Linked DNA regions of Homo sapiens. The protein of the gene in region 1 purifies or fractionates together with the protein of each later gene. This does not show direct contact. Each region holds a gene or a part of one and is shown on either strand. Other genes may lie near its edges.

The links.
Region 2: the proteins of NAA50 (region 1) and NAA16 purify together in Homo sapiens (co-immunoprecipitation; 2 studies listed by BioGRID and IntAct, with this or other methods). This does not show direct contact.

What each region holds. Positions count from the first base shown.
Region 1 is NC_000003.12:113,721,884-113,729,676, forward strand, and holds part of NAA50 (N-alpha-acetyltransferase 50), read right to left. Parts: intron 2,213-7,793; coding exon 2,076-2,212; intron 1,659-2,075; coding exon 1,539-1,658; intron 1,090-1,538; coding exon 1,023-1,089; intron 55-1,022; coding exon 1-54. UniProt on the Homo sapiens protein: N-alpha-acetyltransferase that acetylates the N-terminus of proteins that retain their initiating methionine. Has a broad substrate specificity: able to acetylate the initiator methionine of most peptides, except for those with a proline in second position.
Region 2 is NC_000013.11:41,305,863-41,314,537, reverse strand, and holds the start of NAA16 (N-alpha-acetyltransferase 16, NatA auxiliary subunit), read right to left. Parts: upstream 3,272-8,675; 5' UTR 3,010-3,271; coding exon 2,956-3,009; intron 2,831-2,955; exon of another isoform or gene 2,500-2,830; intron 1-2,499. UniProt on the Homo sapiens protein: Auxillary subunit of the N-terminal acetyltransferase A (NatA) complex which displays alpha (N-terminal) acetyltransferase activity.

The DNA.
Region 1 (7,793 bases):
AAGCCAAACTTCCTGTAGAAGTCAATTGCCGACTCATTGCTGATCTGGACATGCCTGAGATATAAGAGAGTATCAGAAAAAAAATTAAAATTAAGGTTTCATCAAGTTTTAAGCATTCTCCACAGATAGCTCCAAACATCTGTTACATTCTCTTTACAACTACCAGTAATCAACAAGGGTTAGGCATGCTTACCTAAAACCTTTTGATGACAATTTTACACTTTTAATCTAATTTTTACATTTGTAAGACAGCTGGCTGAGATTAGAAGGCTCAGTGTTTATTCTTGTAGTCAACAAAGGGAAAAGTACCACAGCTATCAAAATTTTTTCACTGTAAGAGGATAAATTATTAAAAGGCCCTATTAACACACAGAAAAAAAATGATGAAAAATAAAAAACTAGGGTCTCAAAGCTTGAAGATATATCTTCCTTCTGATTGATAAAATACATGGTATGTTTTAAAAATTAAAAACGCAAGCTTTCTCAATTACTCCCAAAATAACACTGTATAATTCAATCTCTCACATGGCCAAACTAAATTATGAACATCCATGACTGTGATCTTAGTCATAACTCTTTATCTACAGCCTCTTGAGATTCAAGTACAATCTCAGCTAGGTAATCTCTGATTTTGATTATTAAACTCTACTACAAATGATCTACTACAATGTTCAAAGCTATCAACATAGCCTTGAACAAAACACACAAGGTTTTGCATGAGAAAAGTAGTATTAATAGTCTTGAATTCTGAAGGCCTGAGTTTTAATCCTGATTTCATCCCTGTGACTTTGGTGCTCTCATCCTAATATAATAAAGCAATGTGTTCTATCTCAGGTTCCTAATCTACTATTATTAATAAAACAAAACTAAACAAAACTAACAACTACTCGAATACTTTGTAACAACTACTTCCACAGTGTTTCCAAAGGCACAATAAGTGACCAGATTTTAAAGTTTCTAGTAAAGATTTCTCCTGCCAATTAAACCCCTTTGATAAGAACATTAAATATTATTTTACTTACAGATAAATGTTGTCAAAAGTACCATCTTTTTCACAGATGTTTAAGACATGATTTAACATTTTAGTTCCTGTTAATAAAATAAATAACAAACACGTGACTTCATAAATCAACCTTTAAATTATGTATCTATCCACTTGCCATCTGAACTACTTATTGAGTCCTAAAAGAATTTATGAGGTATACACTAGATATCCTTATTTTCCAAAGTTGTGTTCTCTCTCTACAATAGCTACGTATGTTTAAAACTGTTAGCAGAAGACTAACCTTTTTAAACAAGCACTTCCGGGTAGAAGAAAAACAGAAAAAGCAGAAGGGGACGTAAACAGCAAATCTATGTAGGGCTTCCAATAGAATTATGTTAATAAACACTAGTTATTTTTCACCATATTTTACATAATTCAGTAACCCTTTCTCAGTATTCCTTAAAAAGACCCAAATTAACTTACTAGGTCAGACACATTAACAAATAATATGTTTATGCTTCTCTGAAGAAGTAAAAAAACCACAATTTTTTACCTATTCCTAGCCTTCGGTAAGGTGCCAGACATCCTAGTGTCATGATGTAAAGTCTCTTCTGATTCTGTGAATGATCCACCCTACAGCATACTGCACCTACAGCAATATCATTGAAATAGGCTGCCAAGGAAAACATAAAGATATAATGTTGAACAGACAGAATAACACATTTAATCTTTTTCCCTTTTAAAGGACTACACTGTTCCTATCAACATTAAATTTCATCAACTATTTCATGAATATCAATGATCTCAAAGCTCTTATGCCATCTTAGGAAGTTTAAGCCTCCTCTAGAGTATAGCTTAAAGTGAAAACACACAGGTATACACTAAGAACACTAAGCATTTCTTTTTAAAATTCAACTGTTTTATTCAACTGATTTCTCTGAGATTTTTCTCACAACCTAGACCACTCCCATTTCCTCACTTATAAAATAAACAAACTAAATTAGTTAACTTCTTCTGCTCTATAAAAAACTAGGGTTCAAGAACAAAAAGAAAGAAAAGAAGGGAGGACAAAAAAAAAACTATATTATACCAAGTTTTGCTAGCTCGCCAACCTCCAGCACATCCTTGTAGAACTTGTCATTGTAGCTGACTGGAAAGATGACCTGATTCAATCTTTTCAACTGTTTAATATTGTGTGGTGTCACATCTCCCAGCTCGATCCGGCTACTGGAACAAATCAAAATGTACTCAATAAAACATAATTAGCCCCATTTGTTAATATGAACATATGAAAGGGGTACCAAGTCTTTTTTACATGATTGATAAATCCAACTCTTTCAGAGTTGATTTATAAGCAAATTATCATTTATAAGCAAATTTTGACAGTCATTCAATACAAATTCTACTCATAGCTTTCATATAATTACATACATTCAGGGACAAATATGGTACACAACGACTACTACAAAGGCCAGAATAACATTCTGCAAGTGTCAAAATTTTCCTTGTAGTTCATAGTTCAGAAAAATTTAGATACACCTATTTCTGGTAAAATTACAGTTCCTTTGCCCAAGTATCTTATTACTTCTAGTAATTTATTCTAAGAAAACAATGGAGGTATGCAATACCATGCACATTCTATTCATGAAAACCGTGGTCTATGAACTACCTACATCAGAGTCACAGAGGTGATATGCAAAATTCACATTCCTGGATACACATACCCCATTTTCAGAACCAGAGTTGCTGGAAACGAAACAAAGGAATCCACCATCTTGAAAATCACCCCAGGATGAAAACTATCCATTAAGAAAGCAACAGGAGTGATATGGTTTGGCTGTGTCCCCATCCAAATTTCATCTTGTAGTTCCCATAATTCCCATGTTGTGAGAGGGACCCGGCGAATCATGGGGGCGGTTGCCCTCATGCTGTTCTCGTGATAGTGAGTTCTCACAAGATCTGATGGTTTTATAAGGAGGCTTTCCTTCACTTCGCTCTCATTTCTCCTTCCTGCCACCATGTGAAGAATGATGTGTTTGCTTCCCCTTCCACCATGTTTATAGGTTTCCTGAGACCTCCCTATCCCTGCGCAACTGTGAGTCAATTAAACCTCTTTCCTTTATAAATTACCCAGTCTCGGGTATGTCTTTATTAGCAGCATGAGAAAGGACTAATAAAAGGAGCATTCCTAAGAAACCACTTGTAATCAAAACAATTGGGTCCATGGAAAAGATTAAAGCGAAAAATTTTCAGTTCCAATTTCTAACAAAGTATCAAAGGTATTCTGCCTGCAGAGCTGTAAACAAAGAATTTTTAATAGCTGAAGTGAACTTCAATACTGTTAAAGGTGGATCAAATGTGATAAGGCAAACCTGACAGCATTCTACAATTTTTTTGCTCCATCCGTATTATTTGCCCAAAAAGATGTTGTAGCATATTGTGTTTTGTAGAGAAAAAGCACATTTCAACTATATTTAACAACGGACTTTTGTTAACATATACAAAAACATGCTTGAAAGGATTTTAATTTGTAGTAGAAATTGTAATTTTAAAAACTGTATTTTGAAATGTTAAAATTTAGATTAAAATGCAAAAAAACAAAAACAGAAACAAAAAAAAACAGCTGGGCATGAAGGCCTGTAATCCCAGCACTTTGGGAGACCGGGGTGAGAGGATCCTTTGAGCCCTGGAGTTCAAGACCAACCTGGGCATATAGCAAAACTTTGTAAGAAATTTTTTTAAAAAAACTTAACCAGGTGTGGTGGCGTGCACCTATGGTCCCAGCTACTTAGAAGGCTGAAGTGAGAGGACTGCTTGAGCCTGGAAGGTCGAGGCTGCAGTAAGCTATGATTGTGTACCATTGCATTCCAGCCTGGGTGACAGACTGTCTCAAAAACAAAACAAAAAACAGCAATAATTACAGATAAAAAAAGAAATTTCTAAATTTGATTTATCTGGAGAGGAATATGATGTAATATTTTATCTTATAGTACAAAGTTCTCTAAGATGTATTACTCTATAATGCCCAGTTTGGAGAACATTCTACTTGGTAAGGAGTTAGAGGCAAAAACAAGAGACTTTTACCCCCTATTTAAGTAGTCTGTATGAAGAACACAAAAGACAGCATAAAGCATCGTTTCTGTCATACTTAGCAGTTTTGAAAGGCTTAGCTCATTTGGAACTTTATCCTTCCTGCCTTGATTATTTTTTATACCACTAATCTGTATTATTTGTTGCAACCAATGATCTTTTCATGTCTTGTATGTCTTCCTAAAATCTGAACATAGTTTCTTAGCAACCACACAGATTAAATAAACAAACATGTTAGTAAAAGGGTAAGAGATTTATATATTTAAAAAACCCCTCAGCACCATAGGAAGTTTAAAAAAGTAAAAATAAAAAAATAGACATTTTCTTGTTATAGTCTCTTCCAACTTCTAGTCACTTAAGTATAGTCTTTTCTCATCCCAAGTATTTGACAACTATAATGAATTCCCTGTATGAAATTCATGTTTTCTTTAAGTAGATTACATCTCATTCACAGAACTCCCCCTCTTCATAACACTTTTCTGACTAAAATCTACTGGGCTCACTTTCCCCACTATCTACCATTCACATAAAAAAAAAAAAAAATTGGGAGGCCAAGGTGGGCAGATCATAAGGTCAAGAGTTTGAGACCAGCCTGGCCAATATGGTGAAACTCTGTCTCTACTAAAAATACAAAAATTAGCCCGGTGTGGTGGCACGTGCCTGTAGTCACAGCTACCCGGGAGGCTGAGGCAGAAGAATCACTGGAACCCAGGAGGCAGAGGTTGCAGTGAGCCAAGATCGCACCACTGTACTCCAGCCTGGGCGAGAGAGCAAGACTCCGCCTCAAAAAAAAAAAAAAGAAAGAAAGAAAGAAAAATCTGTGGATACTGTTATCCTGTAAACTATAGAATCCTTTATTTTTCTTTTTTTGAGACAGGGTTGCTCTGTTGCCCAGGCATAATTACAGGTCACAGCAGCCTCCGCTTCTCAGGCTCAAGTGATCTTCCCACCTCAGCCTAACGAGTAGCTGAGGAAGGCACATGCCACCACGCCCAGCTGATTTTTGAATTTTTTGTAGAGACAGGGTTTCACCATGTTGCCCAGGCTGGTCTACAGTTCCTGAGCTCAAGTGATCCGCCCACCTTGGCCTACCAAAGTGCTGGGCCTACAGGCGTGAGCCACTGTGCCTGGCCAAAATATAGGATCCTTTAAAAATGCAGTAGCTGACAGGGATCACATCTTACCTACACTGTCTCCTGTTTAACTTACCATAGTGCCACAAGTTGGGTGTAGTAATTTTTTTATATACAGTTTGTATTAATTTAGAGCATCTCATTTAAAAAAAAGTCTTAGTATTTAAAAAGTGATTTAAAATTACATTATGAAGTTGAAGTATCAACAATAATAGTAACTTAAGAACCTACAAAGTCAAGCTTCTAAAGTATAAATGAAAGAACTTGAGGTTTTTAAAACTTTAGGAATCATTTGTAGGTAGTAACTAGGCTTCAAGCATACTTACAGTTTTCAAAGAATAATACCAGGTATTTCTTGACTTCATACAAGAAGAAAAAGTGGTTATAGTGCACTGTGCTACAATGAGTCTAATAAAAGTTAACTACTAAAAAAAGTTTCCATTAGGGTGGCCAGATAAAGCCTAAATAGAGAAAACAATATTGAACCATTAGGAAATAGGCAGCTTAATCTTCCCCTAACTAATTAAAAAAATACATGCCTTTTTTTTTTTTAAAGCACACCATAGAAATGACGTAGAAAGGGAAAATATCCTGCAATAATATGGCCAGAAATAAGTTTGCTGATAGTCTTCCAATATTTTTCTATGCGCGTTATATATATGTATATACACGCTTTAAACAAATTTGAGATTTAAGTATTGTTTGGTAGCTGTTGGAAAAATTAAGCTGTTTTTGAGAAATTAATTTGATTTTTGCAAGAAACAAATATGCTAGAAAAATTTCAAAATGTTCACTTAATGTAACCTTGTCAGCAAAACTGAGCTTCAAATATAGTTTAACTCTCATTAACATGATATGTCTGACTGAAATGGAATACTTCTGTAATCCTGATCACTTAGCTCCAAATTATTTTAAGACATGGATTTTCTAAATATATCAAAGTACTATAATCAACTTGTAAATATAAGTTAGCAAGGAACACGGAGTTAAAAAAAAAAAAAGGCATAAGCATAAGGGATATGTAGACATGTCAAGAAAATAACATTACTTGAATGTAAACAACCAAAAAGGTTTTAGTTAGAATAACCTATAAAAAATTAAGTTAAAAGTCCAAATTCTCTATTAAAAAACTAACCTAATGGAGATTTAAAAAATTCTGTCAATCTAAATTTTTCTAAAGTTCTTATGAACATAATAGAGTTGCCTAAAGCATAAATCAATTATATTTCAATAAATATTTGAGTATCTATGTGTTATGCATCTGGAATGCAAAGGTGTTTACATCTGGTAGGAAAGACAGGTATATACAATGTGCTACTAACAGTGTATGTACATATAGTACAAAAATAATACTAGAATGAAGGTGACAATGGGAAACATTTTGAAGAACGACTAGCTTATCCTGTGGAAGGGCAAGAGATGCAGTCTAATAAAACATGAACAAAACAGCAGTGATGTAGTCCGAAAATCAGTCAGTTTGATATGGCTAAAACATCAAGTATGCTTGTGTATAAATGCGGAAGCTGAAAAAGAACCAATTTTATGACGGCCTCGTATATGGACGCATTTGGTTATCTTCTCTATAATTATTCTCTTGGTGATCTCATTCAATCTTGTAGTTGTGTGGCTTTAATGCTGCCAATTTCCAAATTTCTGTCTCTAGCCTATAGTTCACTCCTGAACTCTACATTCCTAGATCCAAGCAATCTCCAGCAGACACTTCAAAGTGAACATACTGCAAACAATTTCAAATCTTTGTTCCAAAATCTGCTTTGCTTGCAGTTTTTCCTGTCAATTGATGGCCTCTCCATCCTTGGCTGCAGTATATGTTAACTCCAAGTCTTTGTTCACATGGTATCTCAAAAAGGCTTACTCTTGATACACTTTTTTCCTTTTCTTTTTTTTTTTTTTTGAGACGGAGTCTCCCTCTGTTGCTCAGGCTGGAGTGTAGCGGTGCAATCTCAGCTTATTGCAACCTCCGCATCCTGGGTTCAAGCAATCCTCCTGCCTCAGCCTCCTAAACAGCTGTCATTACAAGCATGTGCCACCACTCCTAACTAATTTTTGTATTTTTAGTAGAGATGGGGTTTCACCATGTTGGCCAGGCTGGTCTTGAAATTATGGCCTCAAGTGATAGGCTCGCCCACCCTGGCCTCCCAAAGTGTTGGGATTATAGGCGTGAGCCACTGCACCCAGCCCTTGTAATATTCTTGATATGTTTTCTTATCAGGGTTATCTTGGCCTCAAAGAAAGTTTGGAAGTGTTTCTTCCTTTCTGCTGTTTCATTCAATCAATAAAAGAAAGCTTCAGGTATTTTCAAATTAGAAAGTGCACAAATATTTAGGACTACTGTTGATAATTTGACGCTTTTATCATTTTGAAATATCCTTTTTGCTGGCAATACTCCTTGTTTTAAAGTCTACTTTGTTCATTAATACGCAGTTTTCTTTCTTTCTTTTTTTTTTTTTGAGATGAGGGTCTCAACTCTGTTGCCCAGGCTAGAGTGCAGTAGCACAGTCTTGGCTTGCTGCAAGCTCCGCCTACGGGCTCAGGGGATCCTCCTGCCTCAGCCTTCCAAGTAGCTG
Region 2 (8,675 bases), on another chromosome or scaffold:
AAAGTTTATATTGAGGCCTCTTGACAGCCTCTGGGGAAGGGAACTAGGTGATTCTGCGATAAGGATAGGAGAGAAACCTAAATTTTGAACCATGTGAATATACTGCCTATTCCAAAAATATTTTAAAATAAAAAATGACAATCTGAGTTTGACTACAAGTCTGTCTCACAAATGACAAGAAAAAAACAAGAGAAAGGAACTACTGAGAAAGACAAATAGAAATACTAGTTTTTCTGACTTACCAGGTTATCTGAAAATAATAATAATCATACTGCCAATAACAGTAATAATAGTTAACACCTATTGGAAGCATTTACTATACGTCCAGACACTGTTATTTTTTTCCTTCATCCCATGACAGCTTATTTACTCTTTATTTAAATCCCAGGAAAGCCTATGAGATGCATGATATCCCCATTTAGATAGAGAAACTGAGGCATAGTTATAGAGTTTATATAACTATTAAGTGCCAGAGCCACAACTCTTAACCAGGTAGTCTGTCCCCAGAGTCCAAGTACTCGGGTAAAGACAAGTCAACCTGTAATCTCAGCTACTCAGGAGGCTGAGGCACGAGAATCGCTTGAATCTGGGAGGCAGAGGTTGCAGTGAGATCTTGCCACTGCACTCCAGCCTGGGCGACAAAGCGATACACTCTCGCAAAAAAAAAAAAAAGACAAATCTACATTCACTCAGGAACCATTATATACTAAGCAGAAATGATAGATTCTAGTCTCAACTTTGCTACTAACCAGACAGAGAACCTTAGCCACTTGGTCATTTACCATCTTTAGGTTTGTCTCTTTCTAAAAGAGGGCATGGAATACCTCCAAAATTCAACAAACTGTAATGCTAATTAATATCCAGTCTGGGGAATAAGACATGCAGATACAAGCCACGTGGAACACGTAAAAAACCAGCTGGTCAGTTTGTGTGGATGTGTTTGAATTTTTTCAATAGAAAAAATTTTACTGTTGGTGGCAAAGCACTTTAATCCACTAAACTTTAAAGATAATTTTATTACAGAGACTTCTGTTTGCTATGGAATTTGTTGTAGCCAAATTTTACCCACATTTATTGCAATTGTGAAATGATAAAATCATTCGTTTATGCAGAATCCTCCTAAATTCACGCAACCTTGTCAGAAACATTACATACCTAGATTTAAAAATGTTTAGCTTGGCTGAGCACAGTAGCTCACATCTGTAATCCCAGCAATTTGGGAGGCTGAGGTGGGAAGATCGCTTCAAGCCAGGAATTCGACAGTAGCCTGGCCAACAAACCGAGACTTCCATCTCAAAATAATTGATTTTTTTTTAGTGGTTACCATTTCCCAATTTATTTGGGGATAAACCCTACCTTTTTTGTAATTTAAGAATAATAATGTAACTTTTTCCTTATGACACTGATCCATGATTTGAACTACAAAAAACTCGTATAAAGAGAAAAGAAGTGCTGTCATCTTTAAAGTATGATGCCAAATGTCCTGAAATCCAACTAGCGATTTATAAATGATATTATCATTAATGTTTCAGATTCCCAGGGCAAAAAAAAATTAAAAATAAAAATAAATAAATTACTTCTCCAATTCCATGCTGTGTAAAATAAAAGGGCATGAGAAGTAAAATAAAAAAATACAAAGCCCAATGAAGCAACCTGCCACGTGCTTTAATTATTCGTATTTTTAATGTTCTCACATTTGTATCTTATTATTGGTTCAAAACTAAGCACCACATAATATTTAAAATTTTTATCCCATCTACTATGTATCCTAATCTGAAGACTAAGTGTGAAGTTTCTATCGTCTTGAAACAGAACAGCTACTATGAATTATCTGCCGCTGTTCATACTTAAAATTACTCTAAAATTAGTATTTTATTTATAGTAAAGTTAAGCAACAACTAACAGCCATATAGCCAACCCAGCTTTCAATAAATTCACCTTTAAACCTAAATGCATGTTTAGCAAATAAAAGCTTTTTTTCAGGTGAAAAGATAAACTAGAAAAGACAGTTACCTACTAACAATATTAGTTTAAAACCTAGGGTAGCCAGAGGATACTGAGGAAAGCAAAGGAATGCTGCCTCTTCTCCTTGGAAGAACAGAACCTGGAAAGCTACCAGGGACGCTGGCACACAGCCCACAGAAAACTGCCCACCCGGCTCCGCAGCGGTCATCACTACGGGGCCATTATTCAGGCTTCTGCTCCGCGATAAAGTAAAAATGCTCCCCTCAAATGCAAAACCAGCCAGTCCACGCGGCTTTAATTACTCAAGCAAGGCCTGTGCGACTAAAAAGCAAACAGCTGTTTTGAAGTTGGTGACAACTCAGAAACGCACTTCAAGTCAAATATTCACTTCCAAAGAGGTAAATAAGGTACATTACAAACAGGCAAACTTTTTCCCAAAGGGAGGTGGTGCCAGGCCTGGCTTCCTAAAGTTGCCGGTTTTATTTCCTCGTAACCAGGAAAAATTCCACCATCGCATCGATCCCGCTTTAATAGGTATGCGGGTGTGCTGTGCAATCTAACTAAACGCAAAGCAGAGAATGCAGAACGCAAAACACCTAGCCGAGGAGAGACTGGCAAAATAAACCACCGGGGGAGGATCCCTGAGGGGCTGCTGCGAGCCCGGCGCGGCAGAGAGCACGGCAGCCACTACCGGCCGAGGCGGCTGTGCCCGGGCACTGCGGAGAGCGGCGTGAAGTTTCTGGAAAGAGCGCGGCGGGGGTGAGGCGAGCCGCAGAAGACCGCGGAAAGGAAGCGCACGGAGGAGCGGCTCGGCAGCCCCCGTGGGCCGGCCGGAGCGGGAAAGTGGGGTCCCGCGACCTCCGAGGTAAACAAAGAGCGGTGGGCAGCGGAGGCCAAGCCTGGCCCGCGCCGGCCGCCGCCAGACCGCTTGCCCTTAAGGCCCGAGGACCCGGGGACCGGGGGGCGGCAGCGCGGCCTACGGCCACTCACCAAGATGCGTTTGAAGAGGTTGCTCTCCTTGGGCGGCAGCAGCACGTTCGGCATCGTGGCCGGCAGGGAGGCTAGGTGGCCGGCAGGGAGGCTAGGTGCCCGGGCGCTCCGCTTCGCGGGGGTGGGCACCGGGACGAACCGCTGCTGAGAGTCGGGCTGCGGGCGATGGATTAGTTCATTGGTCTACAGTTGCAATTGGGCAGCCTGGCTGTTCGGCACGGGTGGCAATGGAGAAGGAAGGCGGTCTGAGCAGGACACGCTTCCCCTGGGCTCCGCTTTTTGGCCAGCGGCGGCGGCGGCGGTTCCCGCGCACTGCAAGATGGCAGCCAGGGTCCGCCTCCCGAGCCGGATCCTGTGCGCATGCGCGGAGCGCCCTTTGGCGAGGGGCTGCGGGTGACTACGGGGGCGTAGCGGGGACCAACCGCGTGGATTTGCCTTGTGCTGCGGCTCTCCTCGCCGCAATCTCGGCACCCCCTGGGGCTCAGGCGAGCTGTCACCAAAACCTTGGAGTCCCATGGGGTGGTGAGTCACCACCCTCATTCACCATTGCTCCTATGCATCAGAACGCCTCATAAGACTCCTACTTATTGTCTGCTTCTCCTTGCAATAAAGTAATAAATAAAAACGAGAATTTTCTTTTAAGTAGAAAAGAGAAGACACTGACTTGTATTGCACTCTTGATAAGCTTGTGGCGCAAGATAATGTTAGTTATGACTCTGAAGAGTCAGAGTTTTTTGCATTTCTCCCCATTTAGGAATTTAAGTGTCCGATGCAAAGTAGACTTTTGATGAAAGATGAACTTGTTTTCTTTCCTTTTCCTCCTTGATTCAGACTCTAAGTAGAAGCCTTCTCTTTCCAGGGCAAACCAAACAAACATTTACAATCTTTGTTTTTGTTTGGTTGGTTGGTTTTGAGATGGAGTATCGCTCTTGTCGCCCAGGCTGCAGTGCAGTGGCGCTATCTGGGCTCACTGCAACCTCCGCCTCCTGAGTTCAAAGGATTCTCCTGCCTCAGCCTCCCGAGTGGCTGGGATTACAGGCATGCGCCACCACACCCGGCTAATTTTGTATTTTTAGTAGAGACAGGCTTTCACCATGTTGGCCAGGATGGTCTTGATCTCTTGACCTCGTGATCCGCCCCCGCGTCAACCTCCGAAAGTGCTGGGATTACAGGCGTGAGCCACCACACCTGGCCGGAATTACGGTTTTATAAGGCCACTGGTCTTCTGAGTCTACCTACCCTTTCTCTTCAGATGGTTCCCCTTCCTGAAAGCCATATAATAATGGGAGAAACAGGCTTCAAATTCAGGATCTTCCAACTCTGGGATACTCTCTACAACAAATAAAAGGCAGCATATTGATGGTAATGTGTGAGTCTAGAAAGATACAACAGTGGCAAGAATAAACCATACATTCAGTGTAGGGTTAGTAGTAAGGTGTGTGTAAACATTAGGTACATAAGTTTATTTATACATGTGCTGAATCTTAATGGGTGCATATTTCTGAGACTATAAAGTAATTGATGAGTAACTGCATTTAGTCGGCTGTAATCAGAACTGGGCTGCCCTTTTTTATTTTCCTTTTTTTGAGACGATGTTTTGTTCTTGTTGCCGAGGCTGGAATGCAATGGCGCTATCTCAGCTCCCTGTAACCTCCGCCTCCCAGGTTCAAGCGATTCTCCTGCCTCAGCCTCCCAAGTAGCAGGGATGACAGGCATGCACCACCACACCTGGCTAATTTAGTATTTTTAGTAGAGACGGGGTTTCTCCATGTTGGTCAGGCTGGTCTCAAACTCCCGACCTCAGGTGATCTGCCCACCTCGGCCTTCCAAAGTGCTGGGATTACAGGTGTGAGCCACAGTGCCTGCCTATTTGATTTTCCTTCTTTCTAGCCTAAGTTGGTTGGACATGAAAGAATCATAGGAGTCTTTTTTTTTCTTTCAATCTCCTACGTTTCACACATGATTTTAAAGCATCATAGGAGTCCTTTAAAATAGGGAAAGTACTGTCATTAAAATTGGGGGTCCACAGCAATCCCATTGCTGGGTATATACCCAAAAGAATATAAATTGTTCTACCGTAAAGACACATGCACAGCCAGGTGCAGTGACTCACGCCTGTAATCCCAGCACTTTGGGCGGCTGAGGCAGGCGGATCACCCTGAGCTCAGGAGTTGGAGACCAGCCGGGGCAACATGGCAAACACACACACACACACACACACACACACACACACACACACACTAGCTGGGCATAGTGGCGAGTGCCTGTAGTCCCAGCTACTTGGGATGCTGAGGTGCGAGGATCAATTGAGCCTGGGAGACAGGTTGCAGTGAGCCAAGATCATGCCACTGCACTCCAGCCTGGGCAACAAACTGCCTCAAAAAAAAAAAGGACACATGCACGTGTATGTTCATCGCAGCACTATTCACAATAAAAAGACATGGAAGTAACCTAGATGCCCATCGGTGGACTGGATAAAGAAAATGTGGTACACCATGGAATACTACACAGCCACAAAAAAGAATGAGACCATGTCCTTTGCAGCAACACAGGTAGAGCTGGAGGCCATTATCCAAAATGAATTAATGCAGGAACAGAAAATCAAATACCACATGTTTTCACTTACAGGTGGAATTATAAACACTGAGTACCCATGGACACAAATAAGGGAACAGTAGACACTGAGGCCTACTTGAGGGTGGAGAGTAGGAGGAGGGTGAAGATTAAAAAACTACCTATAGGGTATTATGCTGATTACCTGGGTGACAAGACTGTCTGTACACCAAACCCCCACAACATGCAATTTACCTGTGTAATAAACCTGAACATTTACCCCTTGAGTCTAAAATAAAAAATGGAAAGAAAAAAATAAAAGTGGGGGTTCAAGGGCCTATGTGTACTCTGCAGAGCTCCCAAGCTGCCCAAGCTGTTAGGAAGTAGGCAAGTATAGATGCTTTAGGAGCTTGCCTTAGTCGCACCTGTACTAGTGGCAGTCCCCCACCCGGAGAACTGAGCAAGCACACAGAAGTGCCTCCTCTCAGCACCCTCATACTCAACCACTGCCATAATTGCTAGCCACAGTTTGCTTACCACGGCATTACTAATTCCTGAAAACCTTTGGCTCCCAATTTATCTACATTGTCATTTATCTACATCATCAGAAGTGAAGGGTTACTCACGAAAAGAGCCAAACCTTCAGTGCGTCAGTCAAGCCCTCACTTGACCCTCATAGGACATGGACTTTTCTAGACCTATTTCAAAATGACAAATTAGATTTTTAAAAGAAATATACAAGAGAAGGGAAGAAAAGCATAGTACCAACTGTAAATATTTTGAAGACAAGGAACGATTATCTTTTATGAAAGTTTCCTGTGGGCCTCTTCCAGCCTTATTTACTACAAATCATTAACTATCTTCACTCTCTGTGGTAGCAGCTAAATCATCACCCTCATTCACCATTGCTCTCCCCAACCCCTAAATCAGCAGCCCAGGAAGGTTCTTCACGTGCACTCTGCAGCCTCCGACCCACTGCCAACTTCCACTTCCCAGGACACACAGTTCCGTGCCAGCATCTCCCAGGGAAGCGCAGTCACGCAAAGAAAATCTGCAATCCCAAATACTAGAAAGCAGCACTAGTTTGCTACTAGTTATAAACTATAGTTATATATAGTTATAAATACTCATATTTAATATCTTCTTCATCTGTCTTTCACACACCATACACACATACCTTTTGTATTAGTCTGTTCTCACATTGCTATAAAAAATTACCTGAGACTGGGTAATTTATAAAGAAAAGAAGTTTAATTGGCTCACAGTTCCACAGGCTATACAGGAAGCATGGCTGGGGAGGCCTCAGGAAACTTACAATCATGGTGGAAGGCAAACGGGAAGCAGGCACATCCTACATGGCTGGAGCAGGAGGAATAGAGTGAAAGAGGAGGTGCTACACACTTTTTTTTTTTTTGAGATGGAGCCTCATCTGCCACCCAGGCTGGAGTGCACTGGCATGATCTCAGTCACTGCAACCTCCTGGGTTCAAGCAATCCTCCTGCCTCAGCCTCCTGAGTAGCTGGGACCACAGGCATGCACCGCCATGCCCAGCTAATTTTTGTATTTTTAGTAGAGATGGGGTTTCACCATGTTGGCCAGGCTGGTTTTGAACTCTTGACCTTGTGATCCACCCGCCTCAGCCTCCCAAAGTGCTGGGATTACAGGCATGAGCCACAATGCCCAGCGGTGCTACACACTTTTAAACAACTAGATCGTGAGAACTCACTCACTATCATGAGAACAGCAAGGGGAAAATCTGTCCCCATGATCCAGTCACCTCCTACCAGGCCCCTCCTCCAACACTGGGGGTTACGATTCAAGATGAGATTGGGGTGGGGGGGGCACAAATCCAAACCATATCACCTTGGTTGTCTACACTAGTGTGGGGGTGAGGGGAGAGGGAGGGAATAGAAAAGAACACCAATCACGGTGCTGGTAGTTGTCATCCTGAACCTTATGTGTATAAAAGATGTAATGTATGCACAATCAGAAAGCCTAGATTAACCAGTAACTATAATCTTATTACTGACTTCCTGTTTAGTCTGGAACAGATCTTATTTCTACCTTTCAACAGAAAATGGGGTTATAATAACATGATAATGTGTTTCACAGCAGGGTTATGTGAATTTAATGCTTAGTCATTTCAAAGCCTGTGATAAAAAACAAATACTGTGTAAATCTGAACTCACTGTTTCTCAGGAAAAATGCTGAAGTCCTTTTGGGGCCATCATGGACATCCACCCAGATGCTCCTTCCTGGCACTTCAGACGGTGCATACCTCCTTTAGAATCATGCATAAAGTAAAATAACAGTAACCACATCTGTAAAGACCTTTGCAATTCCCAAAGCCCTTTTTACATATGTAATATGGGCCACTGATTCTTCTCGTTCAGCCTAGTAAAGACAAGGAGAGAAGAATCTGGAAAAGGATTTTCTCCACCCCATATACGTGCATGTCTTCCAGAGCCAGCTGGCAACCTAAAATCAAATAGTTTGCTGCTATTCCCACAGCCAATTTAACTATGTAATTAAAAGCTGATGGGAAAATAACTTATCAGGTTATACAACGTGTTCCACCCCAGACTCCCTGATGTTTCTGCTCTCTTCCATGTTCTTGGCTCTTCTTTCTTTCCTTTTTTTTTTTTTGAGACGGAGTCTCACTCCGTGTCCCAGGCTGGAGTGCAGTGGCGCGATCTCGGCTCATTGCAAGCTCCGCCTCCCGGGTTCACGCCGTTCTCCTGTCTCAGCCTCCGGAGTAGCTGGGACTACAGGCGCCCGCCACCACGCCCGGCTAATTTTTTTTGTATTTTTAGTAGAGACGGGGTTTCACCGTGTTAGCCAGGATGGTCTCGATCTCCTGACCTCGTAATCTGCCCACCTCGGCCTCCCAAAGTGCTGGGATTACAGGCGTGAGCCACCGCGCCCAGCCGGCTCTTTTTTCCGAGAAAGAAAGGTACTCTTATTCCTCCCTTTGAGTTCTTCATCTCATCCCTTTTTGCTTTTCCTCAAATTTTATTCATCAGTTACTCTCCTCCCAGTTTGCATGTTCTCTCTCTTTACATAGTTTATATCCTAGTGGGAGGAGACAGATTATAAACACATAAACAAATAGATAAGGTAATTCCAAACTGTATGAAGTCCTATGAGGGACTTAAAGCAAGTCCTAT